Homo sapiens: one gene and its partners. The protein of the gene in region 5 purifies or fractionates together with the protein of the main gene of each other region. This does not show direct contact. Each region holds a gene or a part of one and is shown on either strand. Other genes may lie near its edges. The genes, in order: IFT172, MNAT1, TPP2, NUP188, CILK1 and MAST4.

Evidence for each region.
Region 1: the proteins of CILK1 (region 5) and IFT172 purify together in Homo sapiens (affinity purification with mass spectrometry, with the first as the bait; one large-scale study listed by BioGRID). This does not show direct contact.
Region 2: the proteins of CILK1 (region 5) and MNAT1 purify together in Homo sapiens (affinity purification with western blotting, with the first as the bait; one study listed by BioGRID). This does not show direct contact.
Region 3: the proteins of CILK1 (region 5) and TPP2 purify together in Homo sapiens (affinity purification with mass spectrometry; one large-scale study listed by BioGRID and IntAct). This does not show direct contact.
Region 4: the proteins of CILK1 (region 5) and NUP188 purify together in Homo sapiens (affinity purification with mass spectrometry; one large-scale study listed by BioGRID and IntAct). This does not show direct contact.
Region 6: the proteins of CILK1 (region 5) and MAST4 purify together in Homo sapiens (affinity purification with mass spectrometry; one large-scale study listed by BioGRID and IntAct). This does not show direct contact.

What each region holds. Positions count from the first base shown.
Region 1 is NC_000002.12:27,483,244-27,486,743, reverse strand, and holds part of IFT172 (intraflagellar transport protein 172 homolog), read left to right. Parts: intron 1-501; exon of another isoform or gene 502-585; intron 586-1,240; coding exon 1,241-1,384; intron 1,385-1,613; coding exon 1,614-1,726; intron 1,727-2,477; coding exon 2,478-2,517; intron 2,518-2,577; exon of another isoform or gene 2,578-2,716; intron 2,717-2,806; coding exon 2,807-2,872; intron 2,873-3,084; coding exon 3,085-3,164; intron 3,165-3,367; coding exon 3,368-3,455; intron 3,456-3,500. UniProt on the Homo sapiens protein: Required for the maintenance and formation of cilia. Plays an indirect role in hedgehog (Hh) signaling, cilia being required for all activity of the hedgehog pathway.
Region 2 is NC_000014.9:60,793,761-60,797,260, forward strand, and holds part of MNAT1 (CDK-activating kinase assembly factor MAT1), read left to right. Parts: intron 1-2,456; coding exon 2,457-2,609; intron 2,610-3,500.
Region 3 is NC_000013.11:102,634,986-102,638,485, reverse strand, and holds part of TPP2 (tripeptidyl-peptidase 2), read right to left. Parts: intron 2,900-3,500; coding exon 2,784-2,899; intron 2,263-2,783; coding exon 2,094-2,262; intron 1,405-2,093; coding exon 1,247-1,404; intron 248-1,246; coding exon 171-247; intron 1-170. UniProt on the Homo sapiens protein: Cytosolic tripeptidyl-peptidase that releases N-terminal tripeptides from polypeptides and is a component of the proteolytic cascade acting downstream of the 26S proteasome in the ubiquitin-proteasome pathway.
Region 4 is NC_000009.12:128,954,199-128,957,698, reverse strand, and holds part of NUP188 (nucleoporin NUP188), read right to left. Parts: intron 1,350-3,500; coding exon 1,265-1,349; intron 748-1,264; coding exon 667-747; intron 1-666. UniProt on the Homo sapiens protein: Component of the nuclear pore complex (NPC), a complex required for the trafficking across the nuclear envelope. Required for proper protein transport into the nucleus.
Region 5 is NC_000006.12:53,055,325-53,058,824, forward strand, and holds part of CILK1 (serine/threonine-protein kinase ICK), read right to left. Parts: intron 1-3,500.
Region 6 is NC_000005.10:67,141,893-67,145,392, forward strand, and holds part of MAST4 (microtubule-associated serine/threonine-protein kinase 4), read left to right. Parts: intron 1-222; coding exon 223-345; intron 346-528; coding exon 529-641; intron 642-2,776; coding exon 2,777-2,904; intron 2,905-3,251; coding exon 3,252-3,487; intron 3,488-3,500.

The DNA of each region.
Region 1 (3,500 bases), on a different chromosome or scaffold from region 5:
CCAGAATTGGGCAAAGCGATAAAGCAGGAGGATCAGCAAAGATTGATGAGGAGCCCTCAGGCCTTCTAACCTAATATAATGAAGAGTTAGAGGATCATAGTGATGGTGGTGTGGCTATTTTCTGGTTTGAGGATTTGCAGGAAAATAGACTTTTTACTTCTGACTTTGGAGATAGGTGAGTTTGGAGTGTAAAGTGTCAATGTTTGAAGCCAGAACTCTAGTGTCCAAATAATTAAACAATTGGGGCAGAAGAAAAGCAGAATAAAATGTTTTGTTTTCAAGGAAGGAAACCCTTAGTAGCAGAGCTAGTCCCTTAGGACCAGAGCTAGTGTTGGAAGGGTCAGATCTGGTCAGAATAATTCACCTGGAGATAACTTCTAACTTGGGTTTCTCTGAAGTGGGTAGTTAAGAAGAAAAGAAAGTGGGATTATTCGTCCTGAGTCTCAACTCGTACTCGCCCATCCTGAACTCTCACTGTCTCTCCCTTTCCTTTCAAATAAGCCCAAACTCCTTTGCCTGGCTTCAAAGACTTCCTGAGCTGGCCTGTTTTTCCTGCCTTACCCCGTCTATTCTACTATTTATAAGGTATAATAGTTTCAAATAAACTAAATTACTGTTTCTTGTCCAGAATTTGCCTTTGCTCATTGCCATTCCTCCCATCTCAGATAACTTCCTACTCAACTGCATTCATTCTTCAAAGCTTAATTTTGATAATTTAAGCATAAAATTCTCTCAGGCTTCTCCAAACTATTGTAGTACTTTATACATACTTTAATAGGACTTTTCTATTTTGCACCATCTTATTAGACGTGGAGGCAGGATCTATGGTTTGCTTTTTGTCTCTCTCTCAGCCCCTGGCCAAGTGCCTTGATCAATAAGGTGCTAAAAAAATATTAATTGAATGAATGGCTAATGACCAAAACTTACCAGACTAATTGAATTTATTTCAGTAGCAGACCTGGAAACGAGGAGGCCGTTGCAGGGATTCATTGATACAGTTGACTTAGCACCCTGCCTCTTAGTGCATTTGCATATGAGTCTCTAGAAGCCTGTTGTTCTCACAGTCCAGGATCTGAAGGCCTTGGAGACCAGCATGGGCCACAGGCATCTCTTTGTTTTGAGGATAGAACCGTGACAGGAAGAAAATTGACCAGTATTACACTAGAATTAATGAAGCTAGAAATGCTTTTGGCATTCTAGACCAGCACATGGGTTTGTTTTTACCCCTTTGCCTCTACAGGATGGAGCTGCAAAGGTGACCTGCATGGCTTGGTCCCAGAACAATGCCAAATTTGCTGTCTGCACAGTGGACCGAGTGGTCTTGCTGTATGATGAACATGGAGAACGGAGAGATAAATTCTCCACCAAACCAGCTGACATGAAGGTAAACAGTGTATTCATGTGTACCTTATTTAACCTATTGATGGGGTCTCACAACTTGAAAGACGTAGTCTGCCTTCTAGCCATCAGCATAGGAAATGGCATACCCCACCTTTTTCTCAGTATAAATCCTCAAGCTCCCTTAGGAGCACACATATGCCTTTTTTTCTCTTTTCTCTTTCATGTGTACTCATTACTTCTTTTTCTTTCTTTTTTTTTTTTTAAACTCTTAGTATGGCAGGAAGAGCTATATGGTGAAGGGCATGGCTTTTTCTCCTGATTCCACTAAAATTGCCATAGGACAGACTGACAACATCATCTATGTCTACAAGATTGGAGAAGATTGGTGAGGATAGAGACTGGGAGATGGGATGGCCCAGGAAAGAAGGGGAAGGCAAGAGAAATGCCTCACTGGGGAGGGGAAATACAGGGGATGAGAAGCCAAGCTTGGCCATTGAAGGCAGAGACTTTCTGGAGTCTGTTTTTGCTTTTCTGCCTTCACCTGTCCCACGTGTTCTTCAATCCCATCCCTGGAGGAAACAGTCCAAGGTCAACAGGAGGCCCTGTGAGATCCTGGAAGCCCAGAGTGATGTCACATCTTTGTTATTGTTCTGAAGCTGCTTAGGCTCCCTCATATACCTCCTTTCAGGGCTCCTACAGAGTAGTCAGAAATACTACTGGGCCAGGGAAGAAATCTGCTCTTTCTTCTCTTCCCTCAGCATCATTTTTGGCAATTTGTTTATGGAAGTGGTATTTATTTATTTATTTATTTTGAGATAGAGTCTCACTCTGTCACCCAGGCTGGAGTGCAGTGGCGCGATTGTGGCTCACTGCAAGCTCCTCCTCCCAGGTTCACGCAATTCTCCTGCCTCAGCCTCCCGAGTAGCTGGGACTACAGGCGCCCACCACCACACCCGGCTAATTTTTTGTATTTTTAGTAGAGACGGGGTTTCACTGTGTTAGCCAGGATGGTCTCGATCTCCTGACCTCATGATCCTCCCGCCTCGGCCTCCCAAAGTGCTGGGATTACAGGCATGAGCCACCACGCCCGGCCTGGAAGTGGTTTTTAATATGTTTCCCCTTCTTTTGTTTGGCAGGGGTGACAAGAAAGTCATCTGCAACAAGTTCATCCAGACGGTAAAGTTCAGACCAGTCCCTGGAACCTTAGGATGAACAAACATATATCAGTATATCTACTTATAAATACAGCCAGGAGTTGCATTTCTAACATCTGAATGTGACTTTTCCTACTGCAAGGATGGTGCTTCATGGCTGTTCATGGTCATCTGCTGTCTTCCTTAGAGCCCTGCTGTGTCCTTCCCTATAGGAGATTGAGGTGGTGGTGTGTGGTGGGGTGTTGAAGTTGTTATAAAAGTGCTGGCCCACACAGATGGGGTTATCCTTTTCATTGTTTCCTTCCACGCAGAGTGCTGTCACTTGTCTGCAATGGCCGGCAGAATACATCATTGTCTTTGGACTGGCTGAAGGGAAGGTAAAAGAGGGAAGGGAAACACAAGAGAGGGGGTGGTAGGGATAATGGTTCTGGAGAGAGGAATATGGTTCATCCTCTTTCTTAGGATCAAGTTGCGTACTGGGGAGAATGCATAGGGACCAGTTTTGTGGGACAGTTTTTCCTTTTTTTCTTAGGGCCTAGTTAAATATAAAATAGCCTAACCATACTTGTATCAATTTTTCCATTTTCAGGTTCGTTTAGCAAACACCAAAACTAATAAATCATCTACCATCTATGGGACAGAGTCTTACGTGGTGTCCCTGACAACAAAGTGAGTAAAGAGGAGTAGTATCACTAGAGTCTGGAAGTGTTAGGAAAATGCTGTGGGGAAGTCTGGACTGCAAGACCATAGTATGAAAGGCAGGAGAACTGGTAGCAGGAAGCACAGACAAGGTTGTGTTTGACAGAGAAAGGGGCTTTCTTGGTGAGATAAAATAGTCTCTTCCTGTATTTCTCTCCTTTCTCCTTTTTTAGTTGCTCTGGGAAAGGAATTCTCTCTGGTCATGCAGATGGTACCATCGTTAGGTATTTCTTTGATGATGAAGGCTCTGGAGAGTCACAGGTATGAATAAAGAATGTTGTGGGAGGCTTGGATTGCTTGAGTCCA
Region 2 (3,500 bases), on a different chromosome or scaffold from region 5:
TAGCATATTACCCGTGGGAAGTGAGATACAGAACACAATGAAGTAGAACTTTGAGTTATTTTTCTATATAATTCTATATTTTATAAGCTTTAAAGAAAAAATATTCTTTTCACAGTTAAAATTAGAAATGGAAAATGTTACGTAGGAAAATAAACTGCAATAAAAAATTTTAATACTATTTAAATTATTATGACAAGGCAGATTATAAAAAGTGGAGATGTACAACTGATTTTGGAAACAATATATTATGTCTAATATACAATATAACGTTTAGAAATATTAATGTTCTATATTACCTTGCTGACTAAACTATTGATTGAGTCTAATCTCCAAGACCTTGAGATATATTAATGTTATTTGTGGCTCTGTAATTTTGACTATTTTGGATAGATGCTTACTTATAAATATCTTTAGTTAGTATAGTTGTAAAGTTTGCCTGTTTTCACCTTCCATGGATGGGTTTAATTTCCTCTAACCACAAAGAATAGTGAAAATGCACCACTCTGAAACTTCCTAAGTCCAGAGTGGTTTATCTGGGGTTTAGTTGATCTTGCTAATGACACTATGATCTTTGGAATTTTTCCCTGTTATTTTTTAGTGACACTATTAAGATAGAAATATAGGCCAGGAGTGGTGGCTCATGCCTATAATCCCAGAACCTTGGGAGGTCAAGGCAGGAGGATCGCTTGAGCCCAGGAGTTCGAGACCAGCCTGAGCAACATGGGGAGTCCCAGTCTCTACAAAAAAATAAAAAAATTAGCAGAGCGTGACAGTGTGTGCTTGTTATCCCAGCTACTGAGGAGCCTGATGTAGGACGATTGCCTGAATCTGGGAGGGCAAGGCTGCAGAGAGCTGTGACAACTTCACTGCATTCTCAAAAAAAAAAAAAAAAAAAAAAAAATATATATATATATATATAAAATAGGTATATATATACATATGTGTGTATATATATGTCTGTGTGTGTATGTATATATTTAAAGATCAATGTTAGTATTTTACTAATAACCTTAAAAATTCTTATTTTTCTTATTACTTTTCTTATTTAGCTTATTCTGTAAGTTAAATACACACTTGGAAGAAATCAACTCTTCCCTATTCATTAGAATTTCTCTTTTTCCCTTTGTCTTGTATTCATTTTTTTGTTTTGTGAAGTTTACTTAGTGAGTACTTAGCGTTAGGCACTGCGGATAGAGAACAAGATAGGCAACATTCTGTCTTTATGAAATATACTGTACTTCCTTGTCTAGGAGACAGAACACAGAAATAAATAAGATGATGTCAGATATTGCCAACAAAAGGAGTGATTAGGACTGTGTGGTCCTAACACATATGGAATTGGGCAAGATTACACCTGGAGGACTACAAATGTTTAAATATTTATCAAAACATTCGAATATTTAAAAGTTATAAATCAAGCCACATCCTTGGCCCAGCCTGATTTCCTACACAGCATGTTGAGTTGCCAGCAGCCTATACCCTCAAGACTCAGAGGCTAAAGGAACTGCTCTCTCCTCCCATCCATCTTTGTAACCTGCCTGACTGAGTGGTAGTATGGATCTGTTGGGGTAGGGCAGGGATGATTGGGGTGGTACCTAGACCCATCTAAAACAGTATATTAACAGATCCCACCAAGTCCCCAGGAATCTGGTTATAGAGAGGTTTGCCTCTCCAGTTCATTGTTTTTTCAACTCAAGTCTTCTAGGAAGTTGTAAGCCCTTCTTAATGTTGCACTACCAGAAAAGGGGATGCAGGTATCTGGGAAACCTGGCTTGCCTGGGAATTCGGTTTGCTTTATTTGGGGCAACGAACTTTAACCGAATAAAGCTTTTATAAGCAGCCACTCTTTCTGGGATTTCTCATGGCAGAAGTTGTGTTCATTTTCTCCCTCACACATACTGGAGCGCTCAAAGTTCTTTATCCTCTGGCCAGTGAGGCCTCATTCAGCTAGCACCTCTTTCTTGTAATTGTCATTTGCTCAGTTGATTACTGAACTTTCAAAAGACATTCTTACAAGGAAAGGAAGAAAAAAACATCTGTTTTAGTGCTTGGGGTATATAGGGCTCTCTAAAGAGCAGGCCCCTGGCAGAGGCTTCTCTTGCCCAGGTCTATGGATGATATTGGGACTGGGGATGGAGGTGACCATACAGTAGCCTTTTACATGCTCTTTGACTTCTCCCTATCCTGCTCTTCTTCCTAGTCTCTCACTCAATTTGTTTTAATTTATAAATTTGTTTGATCTGTAAAACTAAACTGGTATCACTTGGGATACCTATATCTGAAAAGTAAGCTCCAAATGAAAAAGAACATTTTCCAGAAAGTTTTTTGGTAAGATTTTAAATAGAAGTGACTAGTTTTCAAGTCTCACTCTCCTTATCCCATAGGGGCAAACTATTCAGATGTGTTGTAGATTTGAACATTGGCTTAAATGTTATGTTTTATTTCTGTCCTTACAGCTGTGAAAGTTGTGTAGATTTACTGTTTGTGAGAGGAGCTGGAAACTGCCCTGAGTGTGGTACTCCACTCAGAAAGAGCAACTTCAGGGTACAACTCTTTGAAGATCCCACTGTTGACAAGGAGGTTGAGATCAGGAAAAAAGTGCTAAAGATGTAAGTATTCCTGCTCGAATGATTCAGTCAACAAAGAGGACTTTAACAATTATGTCAGTAATTGATTATTATTTGCTCATAAATGTGGACAGATTAGCAAGTAAATAACTATAAATTCATTTAAGTTCTTAGAGAACTGAGTAATATTATTTATCTTTGTTAAAGAAGAGCCTCTTGATTGATGGCTTCATTATTCATTTGTATTTATTCTTTGATTAATAAACATGTATTGAGTACCTACTATGTATTGAGTACCTACTATGTGTAAACACTACTATGTGTAAACATGTTATGCATGTTAAGCAGTAGTTATGAAGTGATGAGTAAAACAGCTATGAACTCTGTCCTCATGAGACTTACCATACAGTAGCATAGGATAGCAAAAAGACAAAAAAACAAGTAAACCAAAACAAATGTTATTTATTATAGATTGAGAATAGTGCTATATAGTTAGTGACTCAGTGTTGCTGTGGTCAATGATGTCAGGTGTGGGCAGAGGAGGTAACATTAAGTTGAAGTTTGAAGGCTATTAGAGAAAATTACGTGTTAGCTATAGTTTATTTTGGTATGTGTATTTTTGTGTATATAGATATACACACATGGGCATAGTAAATATATGTGTGTATATATGTATATATATACCTATATATTATTAATCTGTCTTTTTCATTTACAATTTAGGCTTTACTCTTTACTCTTTGTTAATAGTTTTGGGTTTCCTTTTATCTGTTATTATGAGAAATAATTGATATGTTTATTTTTATTTTTGGTGGTATACATTTCAACCCAGGTAACCAGTGTTTTAGCAGCATCTTTCTAGGTACATAACCAATAATACTTTATCAATCCGCCTAGCGGCTCTTTTATTGTTTGTATAACTTCTGCAAGGTA
Region 3 (3,500 bases), on a different chromosome or scaffold from region 5:
GTCAGTATGGCTGACTACATGACACCTAAAAATGCTAGCTGGGAGCAGAACTAAGACAAAATCCCCATTACCTGGTTCTGTATTAGTGATCATTAAAAGTCCACAAGACTCCATGAATAGTCATTAAAATCTTAGATGTACCAGTAAGCTGTGAGTAACCTGTTACTTACTTTGCTGCTATAACTGCAGTGATCGGAACTCTGAAGAGCGGACCTGCGTTAGGGGATGCTATATCATAGCCACATACCTTGAAAAAAGAATCGGTAAGTGTCAATATCCATAAACAAATGTTTAAAAGAGCGGGGGAAGGTCTAAACTACTGACAGAATAAATCAATCTACTTTTAATCAAGGTCTTAACCAGAGGTTGACACCAATTTCCTGACACTAGGTCACATAATTAATAGCAAACAGCCCAAACAAATGTATAGCAACATTTGACCAGTTGAAATGGGAAAATGAGACGTCAGGTACAAAATAAGTGCATTTTAATTACTCCCAACTGAAAAATTAGCTCAAACTAGTACTACAGACAACTTTAGATGTGGAGATACTGTTGTGATACTATTCTATGCCTGGTTTACAACTATTTGTTTAACAGATGCTTTCTTCATCTGAGTACTAAAAGGTATAACTGGCTGGGTGTGGTGGTTCACACCTGTAATCCCAAAGCCCTGGGAGGCCAAGGCAGGAGGATCACTTGAGGCCAAGAGTTCAAGACAAGACTGGGCAACATAGAGAGATCCTGTCTCTACAAAAATAAAAAAATTTAGCCAGGCTTGGTGGTGCACGCCACTAGTCCTAGCTACTCAGGAGGCTAAGGTGTGAATATCACTTGAGCCCAAGAGTTCAAGGCTGCAGCGAACCACGATCACACCACTGTACTCCAGCCTGGGCAACAGAGCAAGACTCTGTCTCTTAAAACAACAACAACAACAACAACAAGCAACTGCAGCTTTGTTTAGCTGACAAAAGAAAACACCAGTTAGAGGGAGATCTAATTGAAAGGTTCTGCTGTACCTCTTCTTTCCTTTTACTTATTCATACAAGGACAAAATATGATTCTTTAGAAACTCACTGCTTAAATGAATATAGACACACCAGAAGAACTGAATAACCTGGCAGATGGATAGGTCTAGTTATTTCTTAGCAAGAAAGCAATATATTGCAAATATACTTTGGATTTTTTTTTAACCTTTTAAACATTTTAAAGAGTGAAGAAAGTAAAAATGAAGATACATCAATACCTCTGTATAATGCAATCCTTCTCTTAAGCCCCTGGGATCCACACGTATGTTTATGTGTCTACATTGATTCATGAGTTCCAAATGGCTGGGACACTGAACCCAAGATGAATTTGAAGTCAGAGCTAAATGAAGCTGAAGGGATATTTTTTCAGAGTTTTCTGGCACGAAAAAGACCAAAAATTAAAGATGAGTATTTTTTTCCTTTTTTCCATTTAAAAATGTTACATCTTTCCAAAAAAATTTAGCGACTTGGTTTGGTTGGCTGTAAAATGCATCCAAAACACAGCTTAAATAAAACAGTCAAATAATCTTCCTTACAATTTAGATTACTCATGATTCATTTATACTTTCACCAAGCACTGGTATGACCTTAAAATAAAGAGTTTAAGTGAATGTTTTCATTACTGCACACAGGTCATAGTATTCAACTGAAATGAAGACAGCCAGATAATAGCGATGATTATTTTTGTTCACACCTAATCGAGCTGCAGTTCTCCTAGACTGCTTCTACTTTTCATTCTTCAACAGAAAGCTCTGTCTTATACCTAAGTAGGTAAAGTGGAAAAGAAATTTGATATTTTATTATCCACAATTTAATAAAGCTGTGGGTCACTGAGGCTCATTCTACTGTTTTCCCTGGTAGTTTAAGATGCTAACTAAATTGCCATTGTACAAGGACCCCAAATTGCTCTAATATTTTCTCTTATGACTAAGATTTAAAATAATCATACTGTCAATTCATGTATTCTCTTCACAACACTGGCCCAAACAGCAATTCTTTATTATGATACCACTCATTCAAACAGCAAATGTGAATACGTCAGCTTACTGCCAGCCTATTACTGACCTGTGTTCTCCGGAAATACAGGTTCAATGCCAACGCCATGATCTGAAGGTGCAGCCACCTGAACAGGATCTCGGAGGTAGATGCCACGGTTATTTCCAACAGTAACAGTAAAACCTAATTTATTAGCAAATGATGTATTCTGAACGAGGTAGTCATAGGCTTTATCAACCTAGTGAAAATAATATACATGGTAAGATATAAATGGTTGGGTCAAAAAATATTTTGTTGCAAATTACCAATCAATTTGATTTCAGTTGTAAAACAAAAAGTTAGTGTCTATATTCACCTCTCAAAACTACCTAGTACCCCAACTAAGAGGACAATTCTACATTTTTAGAAACAACACCAGTCACATCTTCCACTCCACTCTATTCACACTGTTATTCTCAAGTGACCAAATTTAGGAACTAATCCCTATGCCGTTATGATTGGCCAGTTTTTGACCTCGATTTCTTTGAATTTCTAACCTCTACATGGCCTCCATCTATTACATTTCTTGATCTTAGTGCAACAGATTTGTCTTAACTACAAAATTTGTTTGTGTATCCTTTTTGCTTGTAGTTCTATGGCCATATAATCCATAATTCAGATATACTGAATCACTGTTATAAAACAAAATATTACCCAATAATATCTAAGATATTATCTCAATGATGCTTTACAACCCATTTTTCATATAGGCAACAATACCTGAATAATACCATGTCCTTGAGCAAATACTTCTATATTGTCAGCCTTCACTGCAGTGTTTTCTAGAGCTCTTCTGACTGAATGAACTGTGTAGTCAATGTTATTAGCTTTCAGACCTAAAATTAAGAAACAAAAACAAGTAGTGTAGCACTCACTATCTGAAACCTTAGCCGCCCACCAGTATGATCGATCACCTGTAGACCCTCTGGTGTTAATGTCTTGTGTTCTAACACTCATTTTAAAATCTTTTTTGAAGACCTGAACTAAACAGTCTGACTCAAACTGCTTGCATTACATGAAGGCTTCATTCCACAAAAATCACTGTGTTCTCATTATGTGGTGGGCAGAGAGACTGGTGTGGGCTTTGTGGCGTAATATAAACGTACAAAGCAGATATCTAAAAGCATGTGAATGACATTTTCTTTCAAACACTGCTGGGTTAAACAAGATGGCTGTTGGCTGTGGTGTTCAACCCAACTGTATGTTATAAACCCCAGGGGAACTCAAGCAAAAAAGATGCTGAGGTCTCATGACAGACCAATTAAATCAGAATCTCTGAGGACTGTCCCAGAGATTGTTATTTATTAAACAACTCTCAGATGATTCTAGGGTACAGCCAGGTTGGGAATTACTGTTTTATGGGAAGAATATGGAGGCCACCAATTCATAAGATGAGTGCTGTATCATTCTTGTCCTCTCCAGAGCTCATTAAACACA
Region 4 (3,500 bases), on a different chromosome or scaffold from region 5:
AGGTCAGGAGATTGAGACCATCCTGGCTAACACGGTGAAATCCTGTCTCTACTAAAAACACAAAAAATTAGCCGGGCGTGGTGGCAGGCGCCTATAGTCCCAGCTACTTGGGAGGCTGAGGCAGGAGAATGGCGTGAACCCGGGAGACAGAGCTTCCAGTGAGCCAAGATCACGCCATTGCACTCCAGCCTGGGAGACAGAGCGAAACTCCATCTCAAAAAAAAAAGAAACTCTACCAAATCCTTATCACCTCTAATAGCCCAAGATTCTATGATTAACATGTCAGTCTTTGACCTCTCCACTCCTCCAAGTATGAAGACAGATCTCAGCTTATATGCATATATATTCTTTACTTTTTAAAGAGATAGGGTCTCACTCTTTTGCCTAGGCTGGAGTGCAGTAGTGCGATCACAGTTCACTGCAGCCTCAAACTCCTGGACTCAAGTGATCCTCCTGCCTCAGCCTCCCAAGAAGCTGGGAGTACAGGCACAAGCCATTGCACCCAGGTCATGTTTTTTTTAAAGCCTTTAGTAGGTCTTCCCTGAAGATGACGGTACCTGATCACCTACCACCGATAAAAGAATTGGTGCCAAAATCCTACATTATCTAAAACCAACAGGGAAAAAGGATAAAGGCAGAAGAAAGGAGCTGACATAAACCACAAACCTTTACTGAGTCCCGAGTACCCCTGTAGTCCTCTTGCAGGTAACACTGGAGTAACTGCACACTCTGTTCTTCATCAAGACCCTGAAACACAGAGATTTTAAGTAAGGAACAGCTCAGAAATCGCACACAGGATGCAGAGAATTTAAAGATTTGTCTTCTACAATGAACACAGGACTTGAATAAACAAAAATGCTTCTCAAAGATTCATAAAACATAACAATTCTGACTCTAATAGAAGACAAGAGCCAGTCACTGACATACAATTTTTATTACAATTAAATGTACATGCCAGAAACAACGATGCTTATTCACTAAGCACATTAATACAGCAGTAGGCATGATGTGAGCTTCCAAAATGACAAACTTAGTCACCTTAAAGACCACCACATGTCTGGTGAAGAAAACCCTATGATATGCAGTGAATGGATCAGGCAACTTTGACTTGTAACTTTTAGGGAGAAGAGTTGCAACCTGGGTATTTATAAAACAATTTAATCCCCAAAACAAAAAGAAACTGAATTTTCACTATCACTAGCAATATAACCACGCACATCCACACTGCAAGTAATAAATTGAGCGAGTGCTAATTTTTACTCACCAAAAACTTGCTGATTCTTAAACCCAGTTCCTTCAATGGTGAAGCTACATCTTTATTAGCTTTCACTTTTTCAGCTGAACTTGGACTACAAAAAGAACAGTGAATCATTTCTTCATTCTCAATAGCCCACTGAGTTTAAAATAAAAATATTTTAAAATATTTTTCCTACAGACTATTTTCTGCCCTTCAGATGCCTATAAACACACACACAAACACACACACGCACACACACACACACACACACACACACACCCATTCACCTCTACAAACTTCATAACGCAGAACTGGTTATGCCTAACAAAACAAAACAAAAAAAAAGTGGTTAAATTACAGTTATAACAATGTTATTTGTAAACACATTAAGTTACATTATTTTTGATCCTTACTACTGCCCTAAAAGGCAAATATTACTATTCTCCTTTTACAAATGGAATTGCCAGCACTTAGGGTAAATAACTTACCAAAAATCCCACAGCTCATAAACAGTTGCTAAAATTTAAAACCAGGTCTGTGGCATACATACATATATTAATATATTATCTGTAATAGCTCTGTCCACCGAGAAGGCCTAGAATTTATAATACTCCAACAGCAGGAGGTACATGCAGCACCCAGATCCTGCTTTATAATACCATTCTCTAATAACAGGATTCCTTGGAGAATTGGTTGATTCTAGAGTCAGGGCAAGGAAAATACAAGAAAATCTTGAAGCATCTTATAGTGAAAAGAAGTACAAAAGGGCTTAAGAAACCAAAGTCCTTTCGGTAGGAGATGACATAATAGAAAAAAAAGAAAAGAAAAAAAGAAAAAAGGAAGGACACGCCCAAAGGACAGAGGCCAACCTAAAAGAATGCCCAATAGCCAAAGCTGAAACAAGGTATAAACAAAGTATAAGATAAATAAAATAAATATATTTGAGTCTATACTGATATAAACTAATGAATAAATAAATAGGATAGGGAGGGGCCAGAACAATGGCTCATGCCTGTAATCCCAGCACTTTGGGAGGCCAAGGCAGGAGTGTAGCTTGAGGCCAGGAGTTTGAGACCAGCCTAGACAACAAAGTGAGACCCTCATCTCCACCAAAAGTGAAAAAAATTAGCTGGACATGGCTATATTTAGTACTCACTTCCAAAAAATAAAATAGGAAAAGAGAAAAAAGTAACTTTACAGAGGAGAAACTTGGCAAATGCCTCCTTAACTGAGTGACCAAGATTAACATTACCAGTGATTTCATGTGGACAGCATGTACTCTCTGCTATGATGTGGTAAGAAGGGTAGCTTGGCCAGGCGTGGTGGCTCACGCCTGTAATCCCAGCACTTTGGGAGGCTGAGGCGGGCGGATCACCTGAGGTCAGGAGTTCAAGACCAGCCTGACCAATATGGTGAAACCCTGTCTCTACTAAAAATACAAAAATTAGCCAGGCATGGTGGCATGCACCTGTAGTCCCAGCTACTCGGGAGGCTGAGACAGAATTGCTTGAACCCAGGAGGCAAAGGTTGCAGTGAGCTGAAATCGCACCATTGCACGCGAGCATGGGCAACAAGAGCGAAACTCCATCTCAAAAAAAAAAAAAAGAAGAGCACCTCACCTCTGTGTATTTTTCCCAAAAACTCACAACCCCAGTCTAATAATAAGGAAAACATCAGACAAACCCAAATTGGGGGCATACTACAAAATAACTGACCAGTCCTCAAACTTGTTCAAGGTCATGAAAATCAAGGTAAGACTAAGACATTGTCGACATTGTCACCGGCCGCGGTGGCTCACGCCTGTAATCCCAGCACTTTGGGAGGCCGAGGCGGGCGGATCATGAGGTCAGGAGATTGAGACCATCCTGGCGAACACAGTGAAACCCTGTCTCTACTAAAAATACAAAAAATTAGCCAGGCGTGGTGGCGGGCGCCTGTAGTCCCTGCTACTCGGGAGGCTGAGGCAGGAGAATGGCGTGAACCCGGGAGGCAGAGCTTGCAGTGAGCCGAGATCGTGCCACTGCACTCCAGCCTGGGCCACAGAGCGAGACTCCATCTCAAAAAAAAAAAAAAAAAAAGACTAAGACATTGTCACAGCGGGCGCCTGTAGTCCCAGCTACTCGGGAGGCTGAGGCAGGAGAATGGCGTGAACCCGGGAGGCAGAGCTTGCAGTGAGCCGAGATCGTGCCACTGCACTCCAGCCTGGGCCACAAAGCGAGACTCCATCTCAAAAAAAAAAGACTAAGACATTGTCACAGCTAAG
Region 5 (3,500 bases):
GTACTAGAAATAGTATATCCGGGTTTATGTTTTTCTCCTGGACCTAATTCTTCTGCCTCTGTACATTTTAGCAAGCAAACCTTTTAAGCATTTTGCCTCTTGGACTACTGCTTTTTTTCTGCATAAGGAATAGCAGTTACAAAGCCAAAAGGACCTTCTTTACATGGATCTTGCTTTGTCTTTACCTTGACAGAGGAGTGAATTAAAGATGCATTCAGCTATTGCATCAACTGGATGTTAACAAGAGAAGATAATCCGTTACATGATGTGCCTTCTTCTGTGCCCCAGAAACTTCTTCATACCTTTACCATCCCTCTCCTCTTTCAATCCCAGCTTCTGAAAAAAGAACTCGTCCTGCACTAGGTCCTTAATCCCATGAGAAGCTTCCATAACTCCCTGTCGCTTCTCTTACAATATAAAAGGTGCTCACGCCTTGAACCTTAAAAAAGTTCTTCAATCACTTGCAGATGATTTTTAAACTAGGACACATAGTTGGCTTTGGTGGACTGTAAAGAACTGAAGTAAAGGCGAAATGTTAAAAAAAATAAAAAATAAAAAAACAGCCAGAAAAACAAACCTTTACCCTGCCATGTGTGAAACTGTAGATGAGCTAGAACGAGAGTCCCCAGCTTAATGAAAACTGCCGAGGGTGGCAATAGTCCTGCTTGCCTGTGTTTCAGGGGTGGGCAAGATAAGGGATAGTGAAGATAGGGGAGTGACTAAGAGCATATCACAAGTTCATGTAGATAGTAACTTTCATGATACTGGCAAATAAGTAGCTGGACGTTACACAATAATACTTTACCTTTCTGGTTCTAACGCATTATCTTTTACGGTAGTTACAAGGACAGCCACATGTTATCAGTATTTATATGCTATTACAACACATTTGACTAAGGAGCTGATCTCAGTGTAAGATGCTTTGCTAGCATGTATACAAAAAATCAAAATGAATTAAAGGAAGTAAAGGCTTAATGTAAAAATAAAATAGGGCAGGGATAAGCACGTTTTTTCTGTGAAGGGTCAGTAAACAGGATAGGCTTTGCAGGCTCTCCATCTCCGTCACAACTCCACTCTGCCATTGTAGCATGAAAGCAGTCAAAGACAATATGTAAATACATGGGCATGGCTGTGTTCCAGTACAAATTTATTTACAAAAACAGGCAGCAGGAAGGACTGGCACACAAGCCATAGTTTGTCAAGCCCTGAAGATGAGGAAATCCCCCAAATAAGCAGAAGCACTTTAGTACTCTCCATAGAGCCCTCACTTACCCCTAGGTTACAGGGCTACATACAAGCTGTGTTTAACCTTAGAATATAAGCTCTGTGAGGTCAGAAACGTTGCAATATTCACAACTGTATTCCCAGTACTCAGTTCCCAGAGAACTGGCATAGTTGGCACAAGTACGGACTCACAATAAAGACATGTTCAATGAATTAACTAATGAATGAACAACTTATGGAGCTTTAAAAGGCAATCCTGACCATAGATGATTTTCCTATACTACCACGTCCACCCTCACTGTCATCCCGTCACGCCCCACTTCTTTGCAAACTGGACAACTGTACTGGGACTAGGGTACCAAAATTATGACTCCTTCTAAAAACTTTTACACTAATTTAGGAAAAAACTTGCTTTTCAACAGCTAAGATCACATGAAGGCATGTATATCTTACATTTTTCTTACTCCCCTTTGTCTTAGTTAAATCATTCTCTAGTAAATTCTCTTTCAAAGCAAAGGCAATGTCCAAGAGGGCAAAACCATTAATAACTATCTTTTGGGAACCACAAGTTCATGCAGATAGTAACTTTCATGATATTGCCAAATACGTATTTGGGCATTATACAATAGTACTTTCCTTTCCGGTTCTCAGGCATTATCTTTTATGGTAGTCAAAAGAGCAGTCACATGTTATCAATACTTTATCACAGGTCATGCTTCACCTATAGAAAGGTAAAAAATAACTCACACTGATCTCTCCTAAAAAAACGTGTGGTTCTCATAAGCTCTGGGCCATCGTTATACATTTATTAAGTGGCTACTAAGGGTTCTTGACATGGTGGGAAAAGCACCAAATGAAAAGCAAGGCACTATTGTGGCCCTTTCATTTCAAAAAAAGTGAGTTAGGATGACAATCATCTGCTAGGAACTACAAGTTCACGCAGATAGTTACTTTCATGATATTGTCAAATATAGTTGGACATCACACTTATAATACTTTATCTTTTGGTTCAGAGGCATTATCTTTTATAGCAGCCATGATGAGCTTATTTAAAGATAAAATATAACTGAATGCTAATTAACATAGATTTGAATGCTAAATTCATTAGGAACTATGTTCAAAGCCTAATGTTGAACAAACTTCAGACAATAGAGTTAAGAATTTTTTTTTTCTGTAAAGGACCTTAATGATCACTTGACATTCTCACTCTACAGATGAGATCCAACTAAGAAGAACAGAATACTTGCTATCTTCAGAGTAGAATATTTTGAAATGTGTGAGTATAATACATGTTTTATAGCCAACTAAAGATGTATCAAATGTTCCCCACGTGCTCCTTGGTAAAAAGCATATGAATATTTTGCTAATCCTGAGCCCATATAGTTTAAAAAAAGGGGGGAGCAGATGTTTGAAGATGTGCTATCCTCAAACTCAAACATGACTTCACATGTCAACATATGTTGGATTTGATTTCAGCCTGCTCAGGTAAGTCCCACGACAAGACACTCTTCCTACCCAGGAAGACTTCAACTTTCAAAGCACAGAGAGTCAGGTACTTAATGTGCAAAGATAGTTCAGTTTCCTTGGAAGAAAATCAGGAATAGAAGCCTTCTGTTTGGGTTGAGTGTTTCCCTAAAACCTGTTGAGTAGTAGTTTTTCCTAATATTGGACAGCAGTTAACTAGGAGCAGACAGATTGAATGAAGATGCCCATATCAACCTTGGTTACCACCTTGAGGTAGGCCTGAGCTGCTGCTTTTACTTCTTTGGCTGCAATCAAAGGCATCTCTGATTTTCTTCCTGCCACAACATTTCCTTAGCATTTTAATGCAATTTGCCCCAGAAAATGATTTGTTTCACCAAATTCTTTTTACTAGGTAATTTTCTAGAACACATGTGCTTTTATAAGGAAGTTAAAACTGTATTTCAAAGGTAAGCACAACCACAAACTAAGACACAATTACACTGTAATCCCAAAACGTGTATAAGTCATCCGGCACACACACACCTCTGTTTGCGCATTCTCCCTGATTCAACCACATCAACCATAAACACTGAGGTTCACAGATAGGAGAGTTCTAATACTCTAAACATAGGCCCTTCTCAGAAAGCCACAGTCATCAAAGACCACAGGTGAAAGACAACAGTTAAATGAGATACTATTCACAGGCTTTCAGATCAACATACACAGAGAGGTCATTATATCCAGAATTCTCCCAAGGAACCACCAGGCAAATACACACACTCACATAGATCCCACAAGCAGAAAAATGCATT
Region 6 (3,500 bases), on a different chromosome or scaffold from region 5:
AAACAGTGCCATAGCAACTGCTGTTAGCAACATCAAATCTCCTACTGATAAATTATCAGAAAAACTTGTGGGGCTTTGGTTGTAGAATGAAAAAGTATGATTTTCATGTCTGTATTTCTTTGCTGATATGTTCTCAAAATTGTTGTTAAAAACTGATGTTTGCCTTTGCTTAGTGGGGATAGTTTAACACTTTCCTCTCTGTCTCTACCTGCCCCCTTCCAGGTGGTGCATATGAAGTCAAACAGCATCGATTCTTCCGTTCTTTAGACTGGAACAGTTTGCTGAGACAGAAGGCAGAATTTATTCCCCAACTGGAATCTGAGGATGACACAAGTTATTTTGATAGTATGTGCTTTATCTGACATAAAACATTGTTTGGCCTTTACTCGATAAATAATTATCTTTGCTTTTGAACCTTTTCATATCTCTGAGTTCTTAAACATAATGTTGATCCAGAAAATCATAATTAAAATATCTAAATGTTGAAAATCTGAGTAATTGGACCTGTTCCCAAACATTTCACTGCAGCTCGGTCTGAGAAGTATCATCATATGGAAACGGAGGAAGAAGATGACACAAATGATGAAGACTTTAATGTGGAAATAAGGCAGTTTTCTTCATGTTCACACAGGTTTTCAAAAGTAAGTGAAATGTGGCATAAACATACAGAGTCTCTCTGGGAGGATCTCCCGCTGGCCAGATAGTATCCCCGAACAGCTGGACACTTACCGTTTTCCAGGGTTTGAGGTCTCCTATGCTTAAACTTCCTTTTGTTGAAGAAAAGTGACCTCCTCAACTTATAGTCTGTCCCTATCCCCTAGGCCTTTAGACTGCCATTTTACCTTCTCTCTTTCCTGTGAGACAACAGAGATTCAGATAGCTGAGACCTTGGGCTTACCTGAGCTCTGATCCCCTTCAGGAACCCCGGCACCAATATATTTCTCTCTCCACAAATTAAGATATTGTTTTCTTAGAGGCATAGCCTTGCACCCACAGTCTTGTTTTTGGAGTGTGTGACTGCTACTTATATGATGACCTTGCCTTGAACGTCTCTCACCTGGCTCAATGCCAGGCTGCAGAGGTATCACTCATTGCTTTCAACTCAGGATGAAGAGCGCGAGCTTCACTGTGTACAGAGTCATCTCCGAGGGATTACACAGAGTACAACAAAAGGAGAAGGCTCAGTCCTTGACATAAGCAAAGATACCTGCGGACAGTTGACTGTAGGATTGTAAAGTCTCATAACTGCCAGGCATAGTGGCTCACGCCTCTAATCTCAGCACTTAGAGAGGCAGAGGCAAGAAGATAGCGTAAGCCCAGCAGTTCAAGACCAGCCCGGGCAATATAGTGAGACCCCGTTCTCCACAAAAAGGAAAAAAAAAGCCAAAAAAAAAAAAAAGTCTTGTAACCAATAAACAGAAATTATAAGCCATATTGAAAAGGCAGTAGGAAGCCAAGCTAGAATCATTTAGATAATTGATGCTTGAGAAAGATGCCTTTTTACCAGTACAGTAAAAGTTAAAAAAAACAATTAATCAAAACAAAGAAAACTGATAGTACTGAGACAGAACAAGGCCCTAGGAAAAACGGAAATCAACCTGAGGGCACCCTACCTCCCTTTTGCTATTTTCAGTAGCTATATATTTTCTGTTGCCATGGCATTTTGCATGATTATTGTTTAGCTTTTCTATAACATTTAGTGATTTTAAAGTGCTCCGTAGCTTTTTCTAAATGATTACCTAGATGCACCTGCAAATTGGCCAGCACTACCCTCCTGTGTATGGGAATGGCATCGAGGTAAGGATTTCCCTGGAGAAGGTGGTAGCCAGTCTGTCCTAGAGCCAGGACAGAAGCTTTGCTAAGTGTGGACTCAGACCAGGACTGTTCTCTGGGCCATCAAAGACAACAATGCCAACCCCTAAACACTGCTTCCTTCTTTGCCTTGGTGGGTATTTCATTTTCCCACCATCTCCTTTTCTGTAGCCACTTTCCTGCTATTCCTAGTAGATTATAGGAGGCCTGAGGACCATTCCCATGAGAGCAGCAAGTGTCTGAGCAGGGCAGTAGGGAGCGCTTCCTGCCCTAGGCTCTTAGACCCCCATTTTACCTTCTCTCTTATGAGACAACAGAGATTCACAGATAGCTGAGACCTTGGGCTTACCTGAGCTCCGATCCCCTTCAGGAACCCCGGCACCAACATAGGAAACTGCCTGTCTATAGATGTGATTTGTAAGCGAAACAAATACCTCTGGCTCTTATAACGGAATATGTACTGCATCCTTGCCACACCACCACCCAGTCTTGAAACAGATAATTTATTCTTCTGTTTGCACTCAATTCCAATTCATTTTTCTTCTTCCCACCCCTGACTGGTGGCCATTAAATCTGTTTCTCTGTTATTTTCTTTTTCCAGTTGACTTCATGGTTAAAAAGTAATCAAGATGTGCATTGATCCCAAGGCCTAGAAACTCCACTGCATCTGTGGATTTTGTTTGCAGATACAAAGTCCGCAACAAGATATGATGAGAGGATGATGAATTCATAGCTCCCTATTCGTATATATGTACACACACACACACACACACACACACACACTCACTCACCCTGACCCTTCCTCTCTGGATTCTGGTTAACAACACTGGAAAGTACTTTCTGAATACACAATATTAGTTCAGAATTTAGTTATCCTCTCAGGTTTTTCTCCCAAGACTTGGAGTGTTTTTCTGACAAACTCTTTTTAGTAGATATTAATAAGCACCAATTATTTGCCTTCCAGGTTTTCAGCAGTATAGATCGAATCACTCAGAATTCAGCAGAAGAGAAGGAAGACTCTGTGGACAAAACCAAAAGCACCACCTTGCCATCCACAGAAACACTGAGCTGGAGTTCAGAATATTCTGAAATGTATGTGAAATGCCTCTTAAGTAATATAAGCAGTAGCTACTAGAGCAGAGTTTCTTAAACTTTAGTGAGCATCAGAATACCTGGGGGGCTTGTTAAAACACAGATCTCCCACTTCCAGAGTTTCTCATCCAGTAGATCTAGGGTAGGGCCTGAAAATGTGCATTTCTGACAAGTATCTAGATTATGCAGATGTTGCTGCTGTGGGTACCACACATTAAGAACCATTGCACTAGACATCTCTTGGTTAGGCTTATCCAAGTCCGATTTTCACCTGGTTTCTTCCAAAATTCACCTTTAACACAGTTTTCTAGTATGTATATATGACTTTGTTTTTGCTTTTAATTAAGGCAACAGCTATCAACATCCAACTCTTCAGATACTGAAAGCAACAGACATAAACTCAGTTCTGGCCTACTTCCCAAACTGGCTATTTCAACAGAGGGAGAGCAAGATGAAGCTGCCTCCTGCCCTGGAGACCCCCATGAGGAGCCAGGAAAGCCAGCCCTTCCTCCTGAAGAGTGTGCCCAGGAGGAGCCTGAGGTCACCACCCCAGCCAGCACCATCAGCAGCTCCACCCTGTCAGGTAAGCCCCGGGC